4 linked regions of the Homo sapiens genome follow. The protein of the gene in region 2 purifies or fractionates together with the protein of the main gene of each other region. This does not show direct contact. Each region holds a gene or a part of one and is shown on either strand. Other genes may lie near its edges.

The links. The genes of interacting proteins can lie anywhere in the genome.
Region 1: the proteins of NKAP (region 2) and RNPS1 purify together in Homo sapiens (co-immunoprecipitation; 4 studies listed by BioGRID and IntAct, with this or other methods). This does not show direct contact.
Region 3: the proteins of NKAP (region 2) and ZC3H18 purify together in Homo sapiens (affinity purification with mass spectrometry; 2 studies listed by BioGRID and IntAct, with this or other methods). This does not show direct contact.
Region 4: the proteins of NKAP (region 2) and CSNK2A1 purify together in Homo sapiens (affinity purification with mass spectrometry; 4 studies listed by BioGRID and IntAct, with this or other methods). This does not show direct contact.

Annotation. Positions count from the first base shown.
Region 1 is NC_000016.10:2,261,627-2,265,126, reverse strand, and holds part of RNPS1 (RNA-binding protein with serine-rich domain 1), read left to right. Parts: intron 1-366; 5' UTR 367-483; coding exon 484-554; intron 555-795; coding exon 796-951; intron 952-1,839; coding exon 1,840-2,031; intron 2,032-2,284; coding exon 2,285-2,387; intron 2,388-2,695; coding exon 2,696-2,849; intron 2,850-3,500. UniProt on the Homo sapiens protein: Part of pre- and post-splicing multiprotein mRNP complexes. Auxiliary component of the splicing-dependent multiprotein exon junction complex (EJC) deposited at splice junction on mRNAs.
Region 2 is NC_000023.11:119,930,252-119,933,751, forward strand, and holds part of NKAP (NF-kappa-B-activating protein), read right to left. Parts: intron 1,966-3,500; coding exon 1,856-1,965; intron 1,761-1,855; coding exon 1,685-1,760; intron 1-1,684. UniProt on the Homo sapiens protein: Acts as a transcriptional repressor. Plays a role as a transcriptional corepressor of the Notch-mediated signaling required for T-cell development. Also involved in the TNF and IL-1 induced NF-kappa-B activation.
Region 3 is NC_000016.10:88,597,903-88,601,402, reverse strand, and holds part of ZC3H18 (zinc finger CCCH domain-containing protein 18), read right to left. Parts: intron 3,226-3,500; coding exon 3,077-3,225; intron 2,784-3,076; coding exon 2,691-2,783; intron 1,613-2,690; coding exon 1,455-1,612; intron 1-1,454.
Region 4 is NC_000020.11:484,791-488,290, reverse strand, and holds part of CSNK2A1 (casein kinase II subunit alpha), read left to right. Parts: intron 1-715; coding exon 716-864; intron 865-1,828; coding exon 1,829-1,915; intron 1,916-3,500. UniProt on the Homo sapiens protein: Catalytic subunit of a constitutively active serine/threonine-protein kinase complex that phosphorylates a large number of substrates containing acidic residues C-terminal to the phosphorylated serine or threonine.

The DNA of each region.
Region 1 (3,500 bases), on a different chromosome or scaffold from region 2:
TAGGTTTTTCTCTGTTCTGCATGTGAATGTGGTGCTGTGGCATTTTGAAAGGACTGCAGGGGCTCATCAAACTTGTGGGTGAAAACTGAATTGTTCAGCCTGTAAAATAACAGTGATGGTCTCCACCATCTCCATTTTTTAAGAAAAAGATACGCTGGGGCGACAGTTGTACCTGTGCCTCCTCTGCGGGGTAGAGACGCCTCCAGGAGCACATGGGGACTGTCCCTATGTGTTCCTGACTGTGTGGACACTTATTGCTTACCGTGCTCCCTTGCTGCCTTTTTGTGTGCTCAGCTTTTGACTGCAAAGTAGACTTGTTGCCTTGCCAATTCGTTCACTCTTTAAACCCTTTTATCTTGTTATTAGGCTGCTCTTTGGCGTAAATTGCAATCGATTAGGGATCGTTTCTCAGAATCAAGTTAGAAGTGAGAGTTCAGATAAGTGAGGCCGCCATTGCTGCTTTGAACACCTCAGAAGGGGAGAATGGATTTATCAGGAGTGAAAAAGAAGAGCTTGCTAGGAGTCAAAGAAAATAATAAAAAGTCCAGCACTAGGTAATCCTTCTGTAAGATTTTTCTAGTGCTACTTGGGGGTGCTTACTGCTAGGGACCCGCAGAAAGGGGAAAGTTGAGAATGTTCTGCATTCTACAGTGAGTGTTCTGAGCCACAGACCACTTTGCTCTGTGGTCACCTCGGGTCTCTGTGGCCCTGCTGATGCTGATCCCCCGTTTTGGGTTGTGCTGTTTGGGTTTGGTCAGAGGAGCACGCAATCTCACACTCTTCCTCACCATCCAGGGCTCCTTCACCTACCAAACGCAAAGACCGCTCAGATGAGAAGTCCAAGGATCGCTCAAAAGATAAAGGGGCCACCAAGGAGTCGAGTGAGAAGGATCGCGGCCGGGACAAAACCCGAAAGAGGCGCAGCGCTTCCAGTGGTAGCAGCAGTACCAGGTGGGGCGGGCTGGCCTGGAGCCTGGAGAGGACCTGTGCCACAGCTACACCCCCACTCCCCACAGATGGCTCGGTTTTCTTGATTATTTACAAAGAAAACACATCCTCTGATTGTTAGTAGAGACCCTAATTTATGGCAGACTGGCTAGGTGCAGTGGTGGCTCATGCCTATAATCCCAGCACTTTGGGAGGCCGAGGCAGGAGGATTGCTTGGGGCCTGGAGTTCAAGACCAGCATGGGCAACAAAACAAGAGCTCGTCTCTACAAAAAAAAAAAAAAAAGAGTAATTTGTAAAATTAGCTGAGCGTGGTGGCATGCATCTGTAGTCCCAGCTACTTGGGAGGGCTGAGGCAAGAGGATGGCTTGAGCCCAGGAGTTTGAGGAAAATAAACAAAACTAGCCGGGTGTGGTGGTACACGCCTGTACTCCCAGCTACTCGGGAGGCTGAGTCAGGAGGATGGCTTGATTCCAGGGGGTTGAAGCTGCAGTGTGCGGAGATCATGCCACTGCACTCCAGCTTGGGTGGCAGACCCTGTCTCAAAAGAAAAAATCAACCTAGCCTGGGTCAGCATCAGCCAGCAGCTGCCTTCCCAGCCTGAGTTGGCAGTTGTGACTTTTGCCAGAGTCCTTTGCCTCCCAGCAGGAAAGGCTTCTGTATGGGTAGAAGGCAGCCCATCACCTCTGTCCTGTCCCACACACAATGTGACACCTAGGGCTCTGACTTGCTGGGGGATTGGGGGGTGATGTTTTCCCCACTGCTGAAAGCAGTGAGGCCTGGAGGCACCCGAACAGCAGGTTTCTCCTGGGGGGAGCACAACAGAATTGGAGGAGGCGTCTGTACTGTGAGACTTGGTGTGTGGTGGTTGTGACCCCTCATCTTGCCCTCAGGTCTCGGTCCAGCTCGACTTCCAGCTCAGGCTCCAGCACCAGCACTGGCTCAAGCAGTGGCTCCAGCTCTTCCTCAGCATCCAGCCGCTCAGGAAGCTCCAGCACCTCCCGCAGCTCCAGCTCTAGCAGCTCTTCTGGCTCTCCAAGTCCTTCTCGGCGCAGACACGACAACAGGAGGCGCTCCCGCTCCAAGTGAGTGCCCTGCGCCTGGGAGCTAAAGTTTACAAGCTCGGGGCTACAGATTTACCATCGAGGTTATAAAAGGGACCCAAAAGGAGTCTTTCTGTGTTAATAGGATTTCTGAGACAGGAATAATGTATGTGAACTAGCAGGAAAGTCTTCCTTATGAAAACTGTCACACAAGCAGATAAGAGCTTACTCGAAAGGCGTCTAGTACATTTTGACTTGACAGAAATTGTTTCTGGTGTTTTGTTTTCTCAATCAGATCCAAACCACCTAAAAGAGATGAAAAGGAGAGGAAAAGGCGGAGCCCATCTCCTAAGCCCACCAAAGTGCACATTGGGAGACTCACCCGGAATGTGACAAAGGTGAGGATCATGGATCTCTCCTGTGGGCAGTGGGGTGTGGACAAGCAGGCCTGTGCCTGCAGATGAACTTAGAATGTAGCCTTTTGGAGGACTGGGGTGGTGGCATGTGGTTTGAGTACAGCATTGATTCGTTCCTCTTGGTGGACCATTAATACATGTGTCTGGGAGATTTATCCCAGAACAACACTGGTACTCATCAGATGGAATGTTTTACCCTGCCGAGGTTTTAGTCATGATGTGCTGAGCTCTCTGCGTCTGACGTGACTGACTGGTAGCTGGGCGTTGGCGTGACCCTTCTTTCCCTCTAGGATCACATCATGGAGATATTTTCCACCTATGGGAAAATTAAAATGATTGACATGCCCGTGGAAAGGATGCATCCCCATCTGTCCAAAGGCTATGCGTACGTAGAGTTTGAGAATCCAGATGAAGCCGAGAAGGCGCTGAAGCACATGGATGGAGGTGGGTGACCCTGCCACATAACCCTGACCTCTCAGAGACCCGCCGCCGCGAGGGGCTTTCAAACTGATTTCCAACTGGGCTGCACTTCTTTTTGTTTGTTTGAGACAGAGTTTCACACTTGTTGCCCAGGCTGGGGTGCAGTTCCTGGACCAAACTGAGGTTTGGGCTGCTATTTCTCATGGCCCAATAACAAGATGCACATTAACTGAGTAGGTGGAGTTTTTATTTCTGCAACCAGTTGCAGGGAAAAGGCCTGGAAATTATTGCCAGACCAACTTAAAATTACAAAGTTTTTCAGAGCTTATATATTTTTTAAGCTATATGTCTATACATATGTGTACATTTATGTAAAGACATAAGTTACTGACTTTTAATCTATTAACTAAGGATTGAGTCTTGAAGACCTTCCTCTGGAGCCTCAGTAAATTGACTTAATTTAAATGGCTGTGAGTGCTGGGGTAATTACCCTTGCTTTGCCTTCTGCTAAATCACAGCAGTTTGGGGAGTTTTCTTCCCAATAAAACTGGCTTAATCCTAAATGGGTCCTGACGTATTCTTCGTTATTTTATGTTTTAAGGCCCAGGAAAGGCCTAAGCTAAACTTTTGGTGGGCTTTTCTTATATCCCAGCCTTTGTATAAGGGCCTTGGCTT
Region 2 (3,500 bases):
CCACATTTTCTCTCAAACAAGAGTAGGAATAACAGTGCTCAGCAGTAGTGTGCTAGGAAGCTCAATGTGAATTGCTTTATCCTAATTAGTGTATTAAACATTGCATTGCACTATGACCTATACAACTAACCCAGAAATGCAGAAATATTTTGAAAGAAAAGAACTGCTGTGAGTATAGATTCACAGTTTACAATTATGGATTAATTTATCCCTACAGGTATTGTCATTACTGGTTCTGGCTCCAGCTGATTCCCTTTCCCTTTTTCCCTTAAAAAATCCAAAGTATGCCAGGCACAGTGGCTCACGCCTACAATCTGAACACTTTGGGAGGCTGAGGCGGGAGGATCACCTGAGATCAGGAGCTTGAGAGCAGCCTGGCCAACATAGCGAAACCCCGTCTCTACTAAAAATACAAAATTAGCCGGGCATGGTGGTGCATGCTTGTAGTCCCAGCTACTCAGGAGGCTGAGGCAGGAGAATCACTTGAACCTGGGAGGCAGAGGTTGCAGTGAGCCGAGATCGTGTCACTGCACTCCAGCCTGGGCGACAGAGTAAGGCTTTGTCTCAAAAAACAAAACAAAACAAAACAAAAAAAAAAAACAAAGTAGGCTGGGTGCAGTGGCTGACGCCTGTAATCTCAGCATTTTTGGAGGTTGAGGCGGGCAGATCACTTGAGATCAGGAGTTCGAGACCATACTGGCCAACATGGCGAAACCCCAGCTCTACTAAAAATACAAAAATTAGTCCGGGCGTGGCGGCAGGCGCCTGTAATCCTGGCTACTTGGGAGGCTGAGGCAGGAGAATCACTTGAATCTGGGAGGTGGAGGTTGCAGTGAGCCAAGATCATGCCACTGCACTCCAGCCTGGGCAACAGAGTGAAACTCAATCACACCACTGTGCTTCAGCCTGGGAGACAGAGTGAGACTCCATCTCAAAAAAACAAAACAAAACAAACAAAAAAAAAATTCTAGACCAGGTGCGGTGGCTCACGCCTGTAATCCCAGCACTTTGGGAGGCTGAGGCAGGTGGATCATGAGGTCAGGAATTTGAGACCAGCCTGACCAACATGGTAAAACCGTATCTCTACTGAAAATACAAAAAAAAATTAGCTGAGTGTGGTGGCGCGTGCCTGTAATCCCAGTTACTCAGGAGGCTGAGGCAGGAGAATCGCTTGAACCTGGGAGGCAGAGGTTGCAGTGAGCCAAGATCACGCCACTAAACTCCAGCCTGGGCAACAGAGCGAGACTCCGTCTCACAAAAAGAAAAAAAAATTCTGCTGGTAAAAAAAGAAAAAAGAGAAAAAAAGGAATAAAAAATTCTGTGAGGATCAAAGAGAAACAGAAATCACACCTACTTGTGGAGGGGAAGTATTGGGAATCAGCATATGCATCTCCTTTTGAAAAGGGCTTCGAAGGATAGTAAGGATTTTAACAGGAAGAAACTGGCGATAGGGAAGAAAACAGAGGGCAGGGAAAAGAAGGGAAGGCATACTGGATGAAGAAATAAGCTGAACATGGCATAAAAGTTGCAAAGTGCACATTAAGCCCAGGGAATATTTAGTAGTCCAGCTCAGCTGGAACCTGGAGTAGAAATAAGGGAATAGAGTCAGATAAGCTTGGCAAGGTAAGTTAGAACCAGACTTTTTGGTAGGTACTTTAGATATTATAAACACACTGCTGCTTACTTCAAAGGTTTATCATCTTGAGAGGTAAGTGTTTTTGGAGCCTCTGGGCCAATTAAATCTGATGGTTCTTCAGCCTCTGCATGAAAGATATTAAGAAACACATTCACATTCTGACTAATTGGTTACTTTAATGTTTCATCTGTTCTGAGTTAGTCTATCAGAAGAACCTACTTGTTCGATCCTTCCAGGGATTTTCCAGAAACTCTTCTTGGGATTCTTTAGAGCTTGAATCACTGGACTCTTTTCTGCTCTTCTTAGACCTCTTTTTCTTATATTTCTTCCTATAGGGATTTTAATTTGATACAAATTCACTTAATCTTCCTATGTTAGAGGGCATCTTAATTTTTCTTTTCTTTTTAAATTTTGAACTGGTGACTATACATCTTAATTTTTCAAGGCAAAGAAAGGTGACAATAAAATGATCTGAATTCCCAGCTTATTCAAACTTACAAGATAATTTTACTTAAAAAAATCTGCTTCTAACTGAACCTGGGAAACAGAGCAAGACCCCGTCTCTATTAAAAAAAAAAAAAAGTAGCTGGGTGTGATGGCACACATCTGTAGTCTAAGCTATTCAGGAGGCTGAGGCGGGAGGATCACTTGAGCCCAGGAGTTCGAGGCTGCAATGAGCTATGATTAGCCCACTGCACTCCAGTCTGGGCAACAGAGCGAGACACTGCCTCTTAAGAATTTTTTTAAAAAGTATTCTAACTTATTTAACCAAATCATCTTTTGCTATAAAAATTATCACTAAAGGAGGCTGGGTGTAGTGTTTCACCCCTGTAATCCCAGCACATTGGAAGACTGAGGCGGGTGGGTCACTTGAGCCCAGGGGTTAGAAACTAGCCCTGGGCAACATGACGAAACCGTGTCTCTACAAAAAATACAAAAATTAGCCAGGTGTGGTGGCACACGCCTGTAGTCCCAGGTATGGGGAAAGTGGGGGCAGAGGTGGGAGGATGGCTTGATCCTGGAAGGTTGAGGTTGTAGTGAGCTGTGATCGTGCCACTGCATTCCAGCCTGGGTGACAGGGTGAGACACGGTCTCAAAAAAAAAAAAATTCACTAAAGGGAACAATGAAATACAGTTCTGATGTTGTAGAAAGACAACAGAAATAAAACAGCCTAAAAAGTCCCAACAATTTGAACATTATGAATAATTTTATGTGTAATGGATTAAAATATGTCAAATATGTTTAAATCCTTGGGTTAATAATACTTTTTAAAAATCCAATTCATTATTTGAAAAGTCATTAAAACAAAAAAAATCAAGCAATTATCCTGCTCTTACAATATAAACTATATTTCAGGGTATCTAAATAGTTGATGAGGGTAAGTTTCTCTTATAGAATCATTCTGCCTAATAAATGAAGGATAAAGCCAGGATTAGACTATCACCATTTTACAACCCCTAATGAAATAATGGATCGAGATAATGACCATCAATGGCTGTTAATATGACAAAAAGTGACAACCAGACATTATTTGCCTCCTGACAGTAAACAGCACCACTTATGAAGTATTCTTGCCCCAACTCAAATCTGAGCCTTCTCAGGCCTCTAGACCTATTAATCTATTGGAAATACAGAGGACAGAACATGCCAAAGAATACCATAAGAATACGGTCACTGCAATTTAGGGACATTATTTGGATCCTGATTGGAATAAACTACAGAAAAAACTGCTGAGAATAGAGGAATTATTATTAAATGTTTTAGGCACAATAATAGCATTCTGGTTATGGGTTTTTGTTTTTTTTTTAAATATAGAGACAGGATCTCGCTATGTTGCCCAGGCTGGTATTGAACTCCTGGGCT
Region 3 (3,500 bases), on a different chromosome or scaffold from region 2:
TCCTTCCCCACACATATTTATAGAGACCTCTGTGCACACGAGCTCTGGGGAAGGAAAGACGATATCCACATCTAACAAAAAAACACAAAGGCCTCCAGGGCTTCAGGAGACACCCCTGGTGATCCTGCAGAGTTCTGACTCAAATGCTCCTTTCTGTGATCTGACATTCCACACAAAACTTAATTAGAAAATGTACATGTTAACCAAGTCTTTAAATACCTATCCCTTTAACCTCTAAGCTCTCACCTGCTGGGGCAGGTGTGGGCCACTGGGGCTTCCTCCCCCAACTTCCGCAGGCGGAAAGCCCAGGGTAGCCTGCTCGCGGCAAGAAGGCCTTGAGAAGGGCCTTGCAGGGCCAAGTCGACAGGACCAAATCCTGGAGTGCAAGCCCTGCACGCCTTCCTTTTTTGAGCACCGTTTATTGTCACTCCAGATAGAAATCATAGTGATTATGATTCCCTAATAGCAACCAGAAATGTACAGGGCTGCTAAAGCCTCAGCATGATGGAGTGCCAATTCAGATCTGCCCGAATTATAATCCAGTTCCCTGCCCTGAACCTCACCGTGCCATCCACAGGCAGAGGAAAACAGCACTTTATATGCCATGCAATCCCCCAAGATCTGACTTCCACCCTTCGACCCAGGCACTTCTTCTGTTAAGACAGGATTTTTAAAGACCAGGCATAAAGGGGCTGGGTGCAGTGGTTCACGCCTGTAGTCCCAGCACTCTGGGAGGCAGGCGTGGGTGGATCACTTGAGGTCAGGAGTTCGAGACCATCCTGGCCAACATGGTGAAATCCATCTCTACTAAAAACACAAAACTGAGTTGGGTGTGGTAGCAGACACCTGTAGTTCCAGCTACTCAGGAGGCTGAAGCAGGAGAATCACTTCAACCCAGGGAGGCGGAGGTTGCAGTGAGCCAAGATTGCGCAACTGCACTCCAGCTTGGGCGACAGAGCAAGACTCTGCCTCGGGAAAAAAAACCAAAAAACAAAAACCAGCCATCAATGCCCTGGAGGAGAAGCAGTGAAGGCAGAACAGCCCTGACAGCGAAGAGGCCGCAGCTGTTGTGTTCCTGGCTTGTGGCAACCTCCACACGTTTCCTGGCTCCTGGGTAATGTGGGCAGGGGTGAGGAGCCAGAAACACAGACTTGTGGGGCTCTAGAGGCCTCAAGGACAGCAGCGAAAACTCTCAGAGCTCAGGAACCACAACGGTGTGAGTGCTGCCAGTCAAGGCCCATGGCACAGAGCCCTAACGCTTCCTTCCTAGAAGCAAAAAACTGAGATGAGCTCTGAGAACCGTGCCTGAATGCTCTCAGGAACGTCACTGAGACTCCAGTGAGTGGGGCTGGGTCTCAGCCGAGCGCACCCTGGGGCCCTGCACATGGCTGCTCTCTCCGGAGCGTGGCCGCATGCAGGAAGGAAACGGAGGGGCAGGCAGGGCCATTCCTTACACTGTGTCTCTGACATCTCTCGGGATCCGAGAATTCCAATCTCGAAAAACTTCATTTTCTTTGTCAAATTCCCGTTCGTCTTCGCCAATGGTCACCGTAAACCTTTTCTCTTCAAAATCAGGCTCCTGTTCTTTTCGAATAGTTGCTTTTTTTAAAACCTACCATTGTAAGAAGAAAGAAGTCAACATGGAACAGAATACCGGGCGTCGCTGTTAGGAAACACAAAGGGAGCCGTCCCACCCGACCGCAGCAGCCCTGCAGGAGCAGGAGCTGCACGCTGCAAGTGCTCAAGGGGTGAGGGGCGGACACAGCACAGTTGTCCTTCTGGGGAGGGCAGTCTGTGCCCGTCTCTGCACAAACAGCTGCCCCCGGCCTCCGTGTGCCCACATGAGGTGTTCATCACTTCCTTCAACTACCCTTGGAACTAGATCCAGGGTTCAGTCACTCAGTGACAAGCAGCAGGTGGAGTGGCTGGAGTCTCAGAGGGAAGGAAGTGACATGCCGAGGGAGTGAGAAGGAACATCTTGTCCGTCATTTCCCAGCAGGGAGGCTGACCAGGAAAATGAGGAAGTGGGGCTGGGTGCCAGCAGAGTGGTCCCCAGAGCTGAAGCTCACACACTGGGGCCAACGTGGGCCTAGAGGGAGGAAGTGTGCAGTGATAGGACCAGAAAGCTCCAAGTTTTCTCCAGGAAGAGCAGACACTGAGTCTCAGGAGTGTGGGGTGCAGATCCTGGGGGTGCGGCTCGGGCAGCCTCGCCAGGCTTTCTGTGAGTGGCTGGAGACTGCACCCTGTGCTCCTGGGCAGTGCCAGCTGGGGTGTGGCCCAGTGCTGATCCAGCCCCATGAAGACAGTGGGTATGCCCTGGACTGAACTCCCTGGCCTACTGGGCTGCTGCCTGAGACAGTTAGATATAACTCTCCATCCTTCCGGGCCTGGTGGCGCATGCCTGTAATCCCAGCTACTTGGGAGGCCGAGCAGGAGAATCACATGAACCTGGGAGGCGGAGGCTGCAGTGAGTCGAGTTTGGGCCATTGCACTCCAGCCTGGGCAACAAGAGTGAAACTCTGTCTCCAAAAAAATAAATAAATAAAAAATAAAGAAAGACACCACAGAAACAGACGCCTAACTTCAGAGATTTCTGGGGCTCTCTCTGGACCGAGGAAATCCCAGTTTTGTCAAGAACCACTCCTGTAATAGCATCTTTCTTGTCGGGATTTCTGCTGAATTGTGTTTACCTCCTTTGCATGCCGGAGTCCTCGTTCCCAGGCACTCTCTGTTGGGGGCTCTGGAGGGGGTGGAGGCAAAATTTCATCAACTACCGGCCCACCCTATTGAAAAACGAGAAGGGAGAAGGTGAGAAAGTAAAACTTTCAAGTGTACAGAGAAACCAGACAGTAAAAACATCAACTACAACACAAGCCGGCCGTGTGTGGCCGCTCTCCTTCCACCAAGCCTCACTCCGTCCTCGGAAAGCCGAGGCCTGCTTCCACTCGGGACGACAGAAGCAGCCGAAAGGGGGCACTGAGCCTGTGCTAAGGCACAGTGACTTGTCTTAAGCTTGAGATTCAGACACAGCTCAGTTGGCTGATGTGCTAACAATGAAAGAAGAGGCATCACGCACCCAAGGGTTGGCGGGCATCAGCGGGTGAGGTCCGAGAGGCGGGGCACCATTAGGCGGGAAGGGGTCGGCTTTGGTGATTAGGGAGTAGTTCCCCTTGTCGTTCACTCCAGGGTGTATAAACCTACAATTCATTCCCCAGGTACAGTTCCCTATGGAAACAAAAGTGAGATCAGAAAGGGTCCACAAGAGCCTAATTGCACAAGGGCAGCTGCTGGGGTGGGGGGTGGGAGGGGGCAGAGGCCATGTTTACCCAGGCCTGATGGCGAGCCACACAGTAGTGGGAACTGAACGGGGAGGTGGGCGGGATGAGCCTGGAGAGGCTGAGCCAGACAGCTGCACCTGCCCAGGCACGGCAGTTCCCCAGAGGCTGCCAGGCACCTCGGTCAGAGTGACCACAAAGTCACTTTGTGGAGAGTTCACGCGT
Region 4 (3,500 bases), on a different chromosome or scaffold from region 2:
GCTCATATCTGTAATCCCAGAACTTTAGGAGGATCACTTGAGCCCAGGAGTTGGAGACCAGCCTGGACAACATAATGAGACCCTCGACTCCATGCATGGTGATGTGTGGCAGTAGTCCAGACTACTAGGAAGCTGAGGCAGGAGCTTCCCTTGAGCCCAGGAGGGAATGCTACAGAGAGCAATGAACATGTGGCTGCGCTCCAGTCTGGGCAACAGAGTGAGACCCTGTCTCCAAAAAAAAAAAAAAAAAGGCTATATGCAGACAACCGACTCTTAACAGTAGTGACTAGATATAGTACTTATACACTTAACCACTCAACAGGAGGAGATGGACTTTCCTGATGCAAAGGCTTTTGCTGGCCAATTGGCAGAGATGCCAGGAATATGTGTGGGGATGGGAAATAGGCCTGGTGAGCTCAGCCACCTGACCCTCCTTGCTACACAGAAGCGGTCACGTCCTGTCAAGTAACCTGAATTATGTTTCTTAAAATTGAGAGGACTCAGATGTCTTTTTTCACTCTAGCTATGTTGTTTCCAGTCTCCAGTTAGCTTTGTTGTCCCACTCAGTGGCAGAGCGGTGCAAGACTACCCTCTTGAGTTTGGATCCCTCTTTGCTTTTGTCTGGGCTGTTAGCCACTAAGAAAAATGTAGGAATGAAATGTTGGGCTTCTGTGCCCACGTGGCCCATTTCTCATGCCCTCTTTTGGTCCTGCAGACACTCTCGAAAGCGATGGGAACGCTTTGTCCACAGTGAAAATCAGCACCTTGTCAGCCCTGAGGCCTTGGATTTCCTGGACAAACTGCTGCGATATGACCACCAGTCACGGCTTACTGCAAGAGAGGCAATGGAGCACCCCTATTTCTGTGAGTCCAGATATCTAGCCCACAGAGTTTGTGCAGGCGCAGAGTCCTATAGAACAGAGTCGTAATCCCAGCTCCTGTCAGCTTGCTGCAAAGTTAATTCACCCACACTGAGCCTCAGATTCTTCCAGTGGGGATAGTGATGGCAACTACATTGCAGAATTACTGGAAGAATTCTTCTGTAACAGAATACATGACACAAGAGCATTCCTAAATAAACTCTTTTCATACTGTGAGGATGACACTTCTCAGTGCCTCAGTCTGGAATGGTTGAATTAGAATACACAGCCCTGTATCTTTCCTGTCCCTAGTAATCATTCGTTGGAAAGAGCTAATGAGGCTTACAAATCTTAAAATTGTATGAACACCTTGACTTAGATTTGTGAGTATAGCCACCTGTGCCATCCTAAGTGAAAATACCACTGAGACCCACCCCATCTGCACTGTGATGTTAGCTGCAACATGACATTTTTCCTTCGGTGTGATGGTTTTGTACTGAATCATTTATACTTTTGCCCAATACCTGAAGCAGATAGATAGGCTGATTGGGATAGAGAATGTGGTCATAGCCCTAAGCTACATGGACCTATAGCTTTGGCCTACTTGGTACTGGGCTGTGGACACACTGGTAATATATTACCGTCTTTGCCGAGTTACAGTGTCTTGTCTCCATTAAACCTCAACAGGACCAGGGCTTCATTAAATTCGCTCTGCTATAAATAATTACCTCATCTTTCTACCATTTGATTGAAAGGTTAGCTTTTACCACAGTTTGATAGGAAAGCTATTTCTGCTTTTTACCACTTGTCTAATTCATGGTGAAGGCAATTGCCACCTTAAGTTCTTTGGGGAATAATGTAGAGTATATATAAATTGCAAAGAATGAAGCTGGCTGCTTTCAGGCTTCCAGACCATTAGTTTAATCTTTCAAGCAAAACAGAACCTAGCCTTTTTGTCTCTTTTCTAGACACTGTTGTGAAGGACCAGGCTCGAATGGGTTCATCTAGCATGCCAGGGGGCAGTACGCCCGTCAGCAGCGCCAATATGATGTCAGGTCAGTTCATTGGTAAATTTTCTTTAAAAAAATGTGGAAGTCAATTACTGTTCTTAGCTTTGTGGTCTGATTTCTTGTATACCTTCTCTTCTCCGTACTGGTGGCCTTGTGACTTTTTTTTAACCAGGTTTCAGCATGCTTGACATTTGGTATACTTTAGTGATACTGTCTTGAGTAGGGTATCCCCTTCTAGGCTAGAATCTCAGCATTCCTGGCTGAAAATTTTTGGCATAGGGGCTTGAAAGTGCCAAGCCATGAAAAGGAAAAATACACCATTTCATCTTATAGTTTGAAATGACAGTAGTTACATGGCCCTTAGAAACAATGTTAAGAAATGGGGTATAGAGGTGGGGTTTATACATAGGTGTGTATGTGTACAAGGACAGTTCCGTGACATGTGCCAGAGCAACTATAGAGTGCCTATCAGTTGTAAAAACATAAGTAAAATGGTTTTCCATTATTGGATCATTGTGACGCACAGTGAATTTTTATAGAGTACCCAGTTATTCCAAAGGAACTACAGGCACATAGCATAAGAATTATACATATAGGCAACATCCAAGTGGGTGCATATCTGGTAGTGAAGGCATTTACTTACATATCCTCAAATAATTGCTGTTGCCCTCCTCTTTTTTAAGAAAAGAACTAACTGCCTTCTAGAATTTACCCCTTGAGTATCCTACCTCTGTACAGAGTAATGTATATCCAAACTTACTTGTAGCCTTATTTGTAATAACAAAACATTGAGAATAGCTATCAGTAGGAAACTGGTTAAATCAGTTATGGTATATCCATTTAATGGAATGTGGTGCAGCCAGTAGAATAAGAGTTTCATGTTCTGTTAGATCTCCAACTCCAATATAATAATGTGAAATTTAAAACGCAAGATGCAGGGCCAGGTGCAGTGGCTCATGCCTGTAATCCCAGCACTTTGGGAGGCTGAGGCGGGTGGGTCACTTGAGGTCAGGAGTTCGAGACCAGCCTGGCCAGCATGGCGAAACCCTGTCTCTACTGGAAATACAAAAAATTAGCTGGGCGTGGCGGCGGCGCCTTTAATCCCAGCTACTTGGAGGCTAAGGCAAGATAATCGCTTGAACTTGGGAGGCAGAGGTTGCAGTGAGCCGAGATCGCACCGTTGCCCTCCAGCCTGGGTGAGAGTGAGACTCTGTCTCAAAAGAAAAAGTGAGATGCAGAGCCATGTCTAAGAGGAGTGGAGAAGAATGTATAATAATGTTCTCATATATATATATATATATATATATATATTTTTTTTTTTTTTTTTTTTTTTTTTTTTTTTTTTTTTTTTTTTGGAGACAAGGTCTTGCTCTGTGGCCAAGGCTGGAGTGCAGTGGCACAATCTCAGCTGCTGCAGCCTCCGCCTCCCGGGTTCAAGCGATTCTCCCACCTCAACCTCCCAGGTAGCTGGGACTACAGGCGCCCGCCATGACGCCCAGCTAATTTTTGTATTTTTAGTAGAGATGGGGTTTCACCATGTTGGCCAGGCTGGTCTTGAACTCCTGACCTCAGGTGATCCGCCCAACTTGGCCTCCCAAAGTGCTGGCATTACAGGCGTGAGACACTGCAC